2 separate regions of the Homo sapiens genome follow, and region 2 is linked to region 1. Evidence: fine-mapped expression QTL. Tissue or cell type: whole blood. Region 1 holds a variant in brackets; the other region holds the start of a gene. All regions are shown on one strand. Distances are between the middles of the regions.

Region 1 (4,158 bases):
TTGCAGTCTTGTAGCTGGCCCAATATATCCAACTAATTCAAAATGGGAAATTGTACATTTTACTTAAACAGGATTTGGTAGATGGGTCTTCTAGATATGTTGTCATGAAGAAAAATCAGGAAAATGTCCAAGGGTGGGAGCCTGTGGCTTATGGCTTCACTTACCCATCACAGATAGCTATGTTACACTGCAAGAACAGAGTTCATGGCTTTTCCTGAGGTGGCTGGAAACCTTAATCTCCTGAAGTTAAGTCAAAACTTAAATGTCAATTCACCCAGCTCTCTTGCCTGCAGGCTGATCCAGGGACTTAGAGCTTGTTACCCAGTTACAACTTCTTCTAGAGAAGAACTTTTAAGAAGGAAGCAAAAAGAAATTCAGTTTCCCCCAAGGATCTCTTCTTTGAGGTTCCATCAAGAGATGACAAAAGGAGGCTGGGCGCGGTGTCTCACACCTGTAATCCCAGCACTTTGGGAGGCTGAAGTGGGCAGATCACGAGGTCAAGAGATCAAGACCATCCTGGCCAACATGGTGAAACCACATTTCTACAAAATGCAAAAATTAGCTGGGCATGGTGGTGCACGCCTGTAGTCCCAGCTACTTGGGAGGCTGAGGCAGGAGAATTGCTTGAACCCAGGAGGCGGAGGTAGCAGTGAGCCAAGATTGCACCACTGCATTCCAGCATGGCCACAAAGCAAGACTCCAAAAAATATATATATATATGACAAAAGGGTTAGGAAGCTTTTCCTCTGAGGCCCACGATTACACAACCAAATCAGAAAATAATATTTTTTTTGTTTTAAACCTGTTTACATAAGATGGAGGTGTTTACTTAACTAAGAACCTCGGTATTTACTCAAATCCGGTTTTGGGTTTTATGGCTAAAACATTTCTCCAGATTAACCTTATCAGTTTGGAATATGTTTTTATTTTCCATTAAATATTTCATCCAAATCATACTGAATTTTATTTATCATGGCTTTTAATGTTCTCTATTCAAGTCAAATTTCTGTTTCCTAATTACTTGGCTTGGTGATGGCATTAATATTGGTTGGGAGCTAGATGGTCTCTGCTCTATTTGATGATTGGCATAGAGCAATCATACACTTGGTACTTCCTAGCATTTTTTTTTGAGACAGTATCATGCTGTATCATGTTGCACAGGGTGGAGTGCAGTGGTGCAGTCATAGCTCACTGTAACCTTGAACTCCTGGGCTCAAGTGATTCCCCTGCCTCAACTTCATGAGTAGCAGGGACTACAGCTGTGTACCACCACACCGGCCTCTCCTGGCTTCTTAACCACTTACATTAAAATTGAGAGGAGAAAGGCATTTTCAGTTTCTTTAGTTAATAAAAAGAAGCCATTTCTGGAGGAGTTTTATGCCTGTACCAGCAGAGGTTCAGCCTTCCAGGAATCTCATCATGATCCATACTGCTGACACAGGCCTTTGTCACCTGAAGCATTCTTAAAATAAGGAGACTGACATTAAACAGGACAATTGTGAACTCCACTTTGTAAGCATCATACATATCTTACAACTCATTCTGAAGACTCCTTTATTCTTGCTCTTCCCAGAGAGCTACTGTGTTTAGTCATGCTCACTGCACTCACAAGAGAAAAAGAGTAAGTGGCATATTTGCAGGTGTTGATGGTTACAAGAGCATTTTTACTTTTTCCTCCATGTTTGTTCTGCAGCATTTCCATTGATGCATGCTATTGTAGACTTCTTAGGTTGACCTTGGCCTTGACCTCCACCACTAGCTCATGACCCAAAACTGAAGATGTGCATCAGAAAGGGACAGATTTGGTCTTTCTGCTGTAAAAGATATTCTGCCTTAGTGCCTGCTAATTTGTTGTGCATAGTCCTGTGCTGCCAATCTTCCCCACCAATTGTTAAGGTTAATGTGTGTTTTATATGTGTATTCACAAACATTAAAATGTAATCAGTGGATTCCATTATTGCCCATTTTCATGTAAGGT[G/A]GGAGGCACTTTGTATGGTTGGGAATCTGTAAGATCTTTAGGACTAAAACTCCTGCCTCTAATCCCAATTTATGAGGCCCTGACTCTCCAGGCAGCATGACTTAGTTGGATTTTTCTCTGCCACGAAACCTGCCAAGGCTTCTTCATCACCCAAAACCCTCCCATGACCAACCTGTATGAAAAGAGGGGCAAAGGTCATTATTAATCACAGACATGCAAAATGATATTACAAGATGTCATTTTACCCTCACTAGGTTGGCAAAAATTAAAGATCTGACAGAGAATGACACCAAATATATTTAGCAACAGTTACTCTCATACGCGGCTGATAGGAGTGGAAATTGGTATGACACATTGGAAAATATTTTGGCATTATTAATACAGTTAAAAATTAGCCCTGGCCAGATGCACTGGCTCACACCTGTAATCCCAGCACTTTGGGAGGCCAAGGCAGGTGGATCACCTGAGGTCAGGAGTTTGAGGCCAGCCTGGCCAACACGGCAAAACCCTGTCTCTACTAAAATAATTAGCCAGGTGGTGTGGTGGGAGCCTGTAATCCCAGCTACTCAGGAGGCTGAGGCAGGAGAATCGCTTGAACCTGGGAGGCGGGGGTTATAGTGAGCTGAGATCGCGCCCCTGCACTCCAGCCTGGGCGACAAAGCGAGACTTCGTCTCAAAAAAAAAATTATGTAACCCACAACCCAGTTCCACTCCTGCACATACATGTTGGGGATGTACTTGCATGAGAACTAGAAGATGTGTCCCAAAATGTTTAATAGCAGCTGTTCCTGTAATAGCAACAAAAAAAAAAAAAGAAAAAAAAACAAGTCCAGTGTTCATGGAGAGGGGGAGAAAAGAAGTTTGATTGTAAGTATAATATAGCAGAAAACTACGTCAAAATCAATTACCTGCAGCTACACACATTATTCTTAAAGCTGTCACTTTGCAGGGGAGTGTGGATTGTTCCCAATATCGACCAACTTTGATTGCTTCCTGTAGTGAAACTCCAGGAGACCTGGGAAATGAGGGAAAAGTGTGACCTGAGAGAGAGAGTGCCAAATAATTGGAAGATTTTTCCAGCTTACTGTTGGCAGAAGTGTGGGTGATATGAAAGGGAGCAGATTCTAAGGCTGTTCAACTAGAGATAATGTAATGTTGGATTGGACTGGGTTTGTTATATGAGTGCACACATGGCAGGCTGTGGATTCACTGTGCTAGTTGCAGTAGCAGCTTGTTAATGGAAGTCTATATTTGGTCATGGCCTCCATTGAGTGAGGCTGACATGCAGAATTGCCTGATTTTACAACAGAGAATGGATTCAAAGGTTCAGGAGGTGCAAGAGGGCACTCCTTTCACCCAGGCTTAGAGAAGTGCATTGATGAGGGAATAGTAACGTCCAGGAAAGACTCTGTAGTGGCTGTTTTATATAGTCTATCAAAGGAAGTAGGAGAGACTGTTATGAAAATGGATTTAGGCTGGGCGCAGTGGCTCACATCTGTAATCCCAGCACTTTAGAGGCCAAGGCAGGTGGATCACTTGAAGTCAGGAGTTTGAAACCAGCCTGGACAACATGGTGAAATGCCGTCTGTACTAAAAATACAAAAATTAGCCAGGCAGGGTGGCAGGTGCATGTAAATCCCAGCTACTCGGGAGGCTGAGGCAGGAGAATCACTTGAACCTGGGAGATGGAGGCTGTAGTCAACCAAGATCACGCCACTGCACACCAGCCTGGGTGACAGAGCAAGACTCCCCTCAAAAAAAAAAAAAAAAGAGGAAGGGAGGGAGGGGGAGAGAGAGAGAAGGAAGAAAGAAAAAGGAAAGGGAAGGAAGGAAGAAAGGGGAAAGGAAAGAGAGGAAGGAAAGAAAAAGGAAAGAAAAGAGAAGGAAAGAAAGAAGAGAAAGAAAAGAGGATTTAACTCAGTGGGAATGGTCAGGACCAGATGGCAGCATGTAACCCTGTCATAGACAGGGAAGTTGTCACTGTAACAGGCCCAGGGCCACAACAGTAATGAGAATGGTTTGACCATAGAGGTTTTGACCCTGAGTAATGATGATGGTGACTATGGACTGAAATAGGTAGACCGCCCACTAAAGTCTTTATCAGTATCAGTGAGTCATTAAGCCTTTACAGACACCTGACTTGGATCAGCACAACAGTCATCGACCTTCACTTACTTCCT
Region 2 (4,158 bases), 79 kb before region 1:
CAATTTTATCAAAAATAGAGATTAGGGCAATATGACATAACAGCATTAAGCACTAAACCATTTGACAGGGATTCCTTTCAAAAGTGAAAACCAGTGTACGATTATACAGCTTCTCCACTAATCTTTGTTACCAACAGCCACTTAATCTAATCCTAAAGACTGAGTACAATATTCCTTCTACAATACTTTGAACACTCACTTCAATTTATTGCATATTTTCTAAATGCACCTCTCTCTCTCTTCTGAAAGAGAGAACATTTCATCAGAAAACGAACGGGGTCTTTTGCCTATCTGATGGTCTCACACCTTCACAACAGCTACAAATCCTTGGACCAGCCAGGGACAGACCAACTCCAGGGTTCTCTGACAACAGAAGTCCTGGAAAGGCTCTGCACTCAAAACAAACCCCTACACCACCCCAAGGGAGGGGGATTGTTTCAGGTTCGGGGAGACGCTAAAAGAAATTGAACCTAAACTCTTCATCAGGCATGTCCAGAGTGGCTTTGGCTCTCCATATAGAGCGAGGCCTGCAGACCCTTTGGCTCTTCTTTCTGGTGGCTCCATCTACAGGTTGCACCTGGGCTGAATAAGCAGCTGTCGGGGAGAGAAGCAGCGTATGTCAGAACTGAATAATAACAATTAACATTACCTGTACAGTTATGTTTGCCCATACAATTCTAACCACCTTGCATAAATTAACTGATTAATTCCTCAAATTTGTAAGGTTGATATTACTATCATCCCCCACTTAGAGAGGTTCAGTAGTTTGCAAAAGGTGTTAGTACTACTATGTGGTAGATCCAGGATTTGAACCTAGCTGATCTGGCCCCAGGAATTGCACTCAAACTGTTATGGGATATGGCTTCATTGCTAGTAGAGAAAGCCAAGACACAAAGACATGAGGCAGCTTTCCCCAACCCAGGAGCAGGACCAACATAGGACCATGCTCTTTCCCACTCCTCCCAGGGCCTCCCCGCTGCTTCCCAGGTTCAGTCCTAGGAAGAGGAAAGAGAGGTCCACGCTTTCTGTTTCCCTGCTCCCTCAGGCTTCCCTGAGCCCATCTCCTTCCCCCACCAGGCTTGTTGCTCTGGGCCTTCTTCCTTTCACCCCCTAGACACTTCCTCCTTAAGTTAGGCCTTCCTGAATCAACCAGTGGCTAGCTCCTCACCAGCTCTGAGAGCCCGCAGGGCCTCACGCCATTCGGCTTCCATCTGAGCCCTATAGTCTCCAAACAAGGAGTGCATCAGCTGCCTCTTCCGGGGCAAGGGCGTTCTTTTGCTGCGCAGGGTTCGGATTGCTCCAATAGCCTGCTCTTCTGCGAATAAAAATAAAGGACTAGTGAACACCTCTATTACTGACCTCCTACCACCCCGCCGCAAAGCCAACAACTCCATACTCTGCCAGCACCTGCAGGCCAGGCAGTGCCACTGTTCACATCCCCCAGCTCTACAGAAGGGTCCCTTACTCTGTTTCGGGGTGGGTTTCTGCCTCTTGAGGCCCAGCTCCAGTTGCTCCACACACCAAGCCAATTCCTGGGCCAACTGTTGTGCCTGTGATGGATTTGGGGAAGTGGCTGTGAGAGGGCACTGGAAAACCATAGCCGCCGGCCCCATCCCATGCCCCTCCCCGCCTTAACTCCGCGGACCCCAGATCACACGTGCCCGTGGATTCGCACCCGTGGATTCCACCCTTCCCGACCGAAGCCCGCCCTTGCCTGGGCCTCAGCGCTTAGGGGAACTTCTTCTGGGGCGAGTTTCTCTGAGGCCTTCTCGCCTCCATTTGCCACAGAGGCCCTGTTCCGCGTTTTCTTCTTATTCTTTTGTTTTTTCGACGCTGTGCCGCCTTCATCGCCCAACGGGTGCGCTCTGGAGTCAGCGTTACTGCACGTAGGTTGCTCTGGGCAGAGACAGACAGTGGAAGGATTCCGGGCGCTGGAAACTGGGCCGGGAAGCCGGGCTCCGCGGGACGCGCAGGGAGTACCCGGGCCTGGGGCCGCCGCTGCCTCCCCAGCAAGATGTCCCAGGGCCTGGAGAAAGGGGGGTAGCACGAGGGTCACCGAGAGCCGCCAACAATGCAAGGCCCAGCCACCCGCGCGTCTTCTCCACACCGCTCACCGCCATGCGCCGCAGTCGCCACCGGAACTACGCGGGGCGCAGAGTCCGACGCCGAATTCCGTCCTTCAAGAACGCGCCTGCGACTCTAGGTTCCGCGGGGCGCGGGCGGGGCGCGGGCGGGGCGCGGGCGGGGCGCGGGCGGGGCGCGGGCGGGGCGCGGGCGGGGCGCGGGCGGGGCGCGGGCGGGGCGCGGGCGGGGCGCGGGCGGGGCGGGGCGCGGGCGGGGCGCGGGCGGGGCGGGGAGCGGGCGGGGCGGGGCGCGGCTGGGGTGGGATGAAGCTGGGACGGGGCGAAGCTGGGACGCGCCTGGGACGAAGCTGAGATGGGGCTGGGGCGGGGCCTGGGGGTTCGGGGAAGAGGCTGAAGAGGGGTCTCGGAAGAACCCTTGTGAGCGAGTGATCGCGGGCGCTGACTACGTGCCCGGCACCTTTCCGGATAAAAGTTCAAAGCTCTCCACGAGGGTGTGTCTTCTCAAGGCTCACCTTTTGGTGGGGAGGGAAAAGCAAGTAAACAGCACGTGAGCAGCTACGGCGCAAGAGGGTGGTCGGCAAAGACCCTGGGAAATGGGGAAGAGCGAGGGTCAGGGCGCGGTCGTTTGAGAGGCCGGCGTCTCGGGACGTGGAGGCTCGGGTGAGGTCTGAGAGTTGGGAGGGCCCCCGTCATGGGCTTACTTCCGTTCTAACGCAGTGGGAAGTCGCTGCAAGATGTAAATCTGAAGAGTGGCATAATCGTAGACGTATGTTCTGCAGATCTCTCTGCTCTTGTGTAACGAGTGGGGCACATGGGGTGGAGGGACGTGGAGGGGTTTCAGAAGCAGACGCGGGAAGAGCCTTGGACAGGATATGGACGTGAGGGAGGGTGGCGGTATGGGGGAGAGGGAGAGCCCCATCCCACCACCTCTCTTCCCCTGGATGCTTCCCTCCCACTATACCTTGCTAGAGACCTGGGGTCACACACAACACTCGACCCCCGCCGATGGAGGCATGACAACCGAGAGGAATTGCGTAGGGGTTGAGGTGAGGCTGAGTAGGGTTTCAGGGGGGCAACGGGCTATGCCAGGAGGGTGGGTTGTGTTGCTTGAGAAGGTAAGAGTCCGAGATGTCTGATGATTCCTTTCGGGGACACAGGAGTGGAAAGCGGTGTTTCCTGAGACGGTGGGGTGGGAAGTGTTAGCTGCCTGGTCTGCAAGGTCTCGAAGGGTTACAGTTTGGTCATCACTGATAGTTATTTACTGCAGTGTGATACATTACTCCCAAAATTCGGCGGATTGGCCGGGCGCGGTGACTCACGCCTGTAATCCCAACACTTTGGGAGGCCGATGCGGGCGGATCACGAGGTTAGGAGTTTGAGACCATCCTGGCTAACATAGTGAAACCCCGTCTCTACTAAAAAATACCAAAAAATTAGCCGGGCATAGTGGCGGGCACTTGTAGTCCCAGCTACTCGGGAGGCTGAGGCAGGAGAATGGCATGAACCCGGGAGGTGGAGCTTGCAGTGAGCCAAGATCGCACCGCTGCACTACAGCCTGGGTGACAGAGCGAGACTCCATCTAAAAAAAAAAAAAAAAAAAAAACACGCAGAATTTAAACGGGACACGCAGTAAAGGAGATGCGGCATACAGTAATTTATTACAAAGGAGAAAGAATATTTGGAAAGTTAAGTGAACAATAGACAGTACACCCTGAGAGAGAGAGAGAGGATTGAGGGCCAGCTGCTCATAAGGTTGGGGCAGCAAAGACGCATGAGGGAGACTCCCTTTATGGGGGTCTTACATGATTATTCATAAGGAATTGGGAAGAGGTGCTACTAGTGAGTATGTTCTGGATGGTCCTCTGAGTGCACATGTGCGGTAGCTGTATGTTCTTACATGCTTGTTCATACAATGCTTCTTGTCATACAATGCTTGTTCTACATGCTGGTATATGATTGTTCGTACATGTCACATGTCTTATTAGCATCTTAAACCTCCAACCAGGGCTCTGTTTTTTACTATTATAATGAGCGAAAGGTCAGTCTGAGGACAGGTAAAATCAAAATGTACATG

The links. PIP is the estimated chance that this variant, and not a neighbour inherited with it, causes the effect.
Region 2: C8orf33 starts here. The variant in region 1 is fine-mapped to the expression of C8orf33 in whole blood (TOPMed, PIP 0.91).

The regions. Positions count from the first base shown.
Region 1 is chr8:144,971,385-144,975,542 of GRCh38, reverse strand. It overlaps the pseudogene ZNF252P. Among named protein-coding and RNA genes, the nearest start is that of ZNF16, 23 kb to the right of the region's middle. The variant G/A (reference allele first, on the strand shown) is at 1,979.
Region 2 is chr8:145,050,454-145,054,611 of GRCh38, reverse strand. It overlaps C8orf33 (chromosome 8 open reading frame 33), which reads right to left and starts at 2,145. Exons shown (of 5, transcript NM_023080.3): 1 at 2,115-2,145; 2 at 1,715-2,026; 3 at 1,466-1,550; 4 at 1,169-1,315; 5 at 1-594. The coding sequence starts at 2,120. The coding sequence ends at 455. RefSeq lists enhancers at 771-1,571, 2,500-2,549, 2,590-2,719 and a silencer at 2,220-2,289.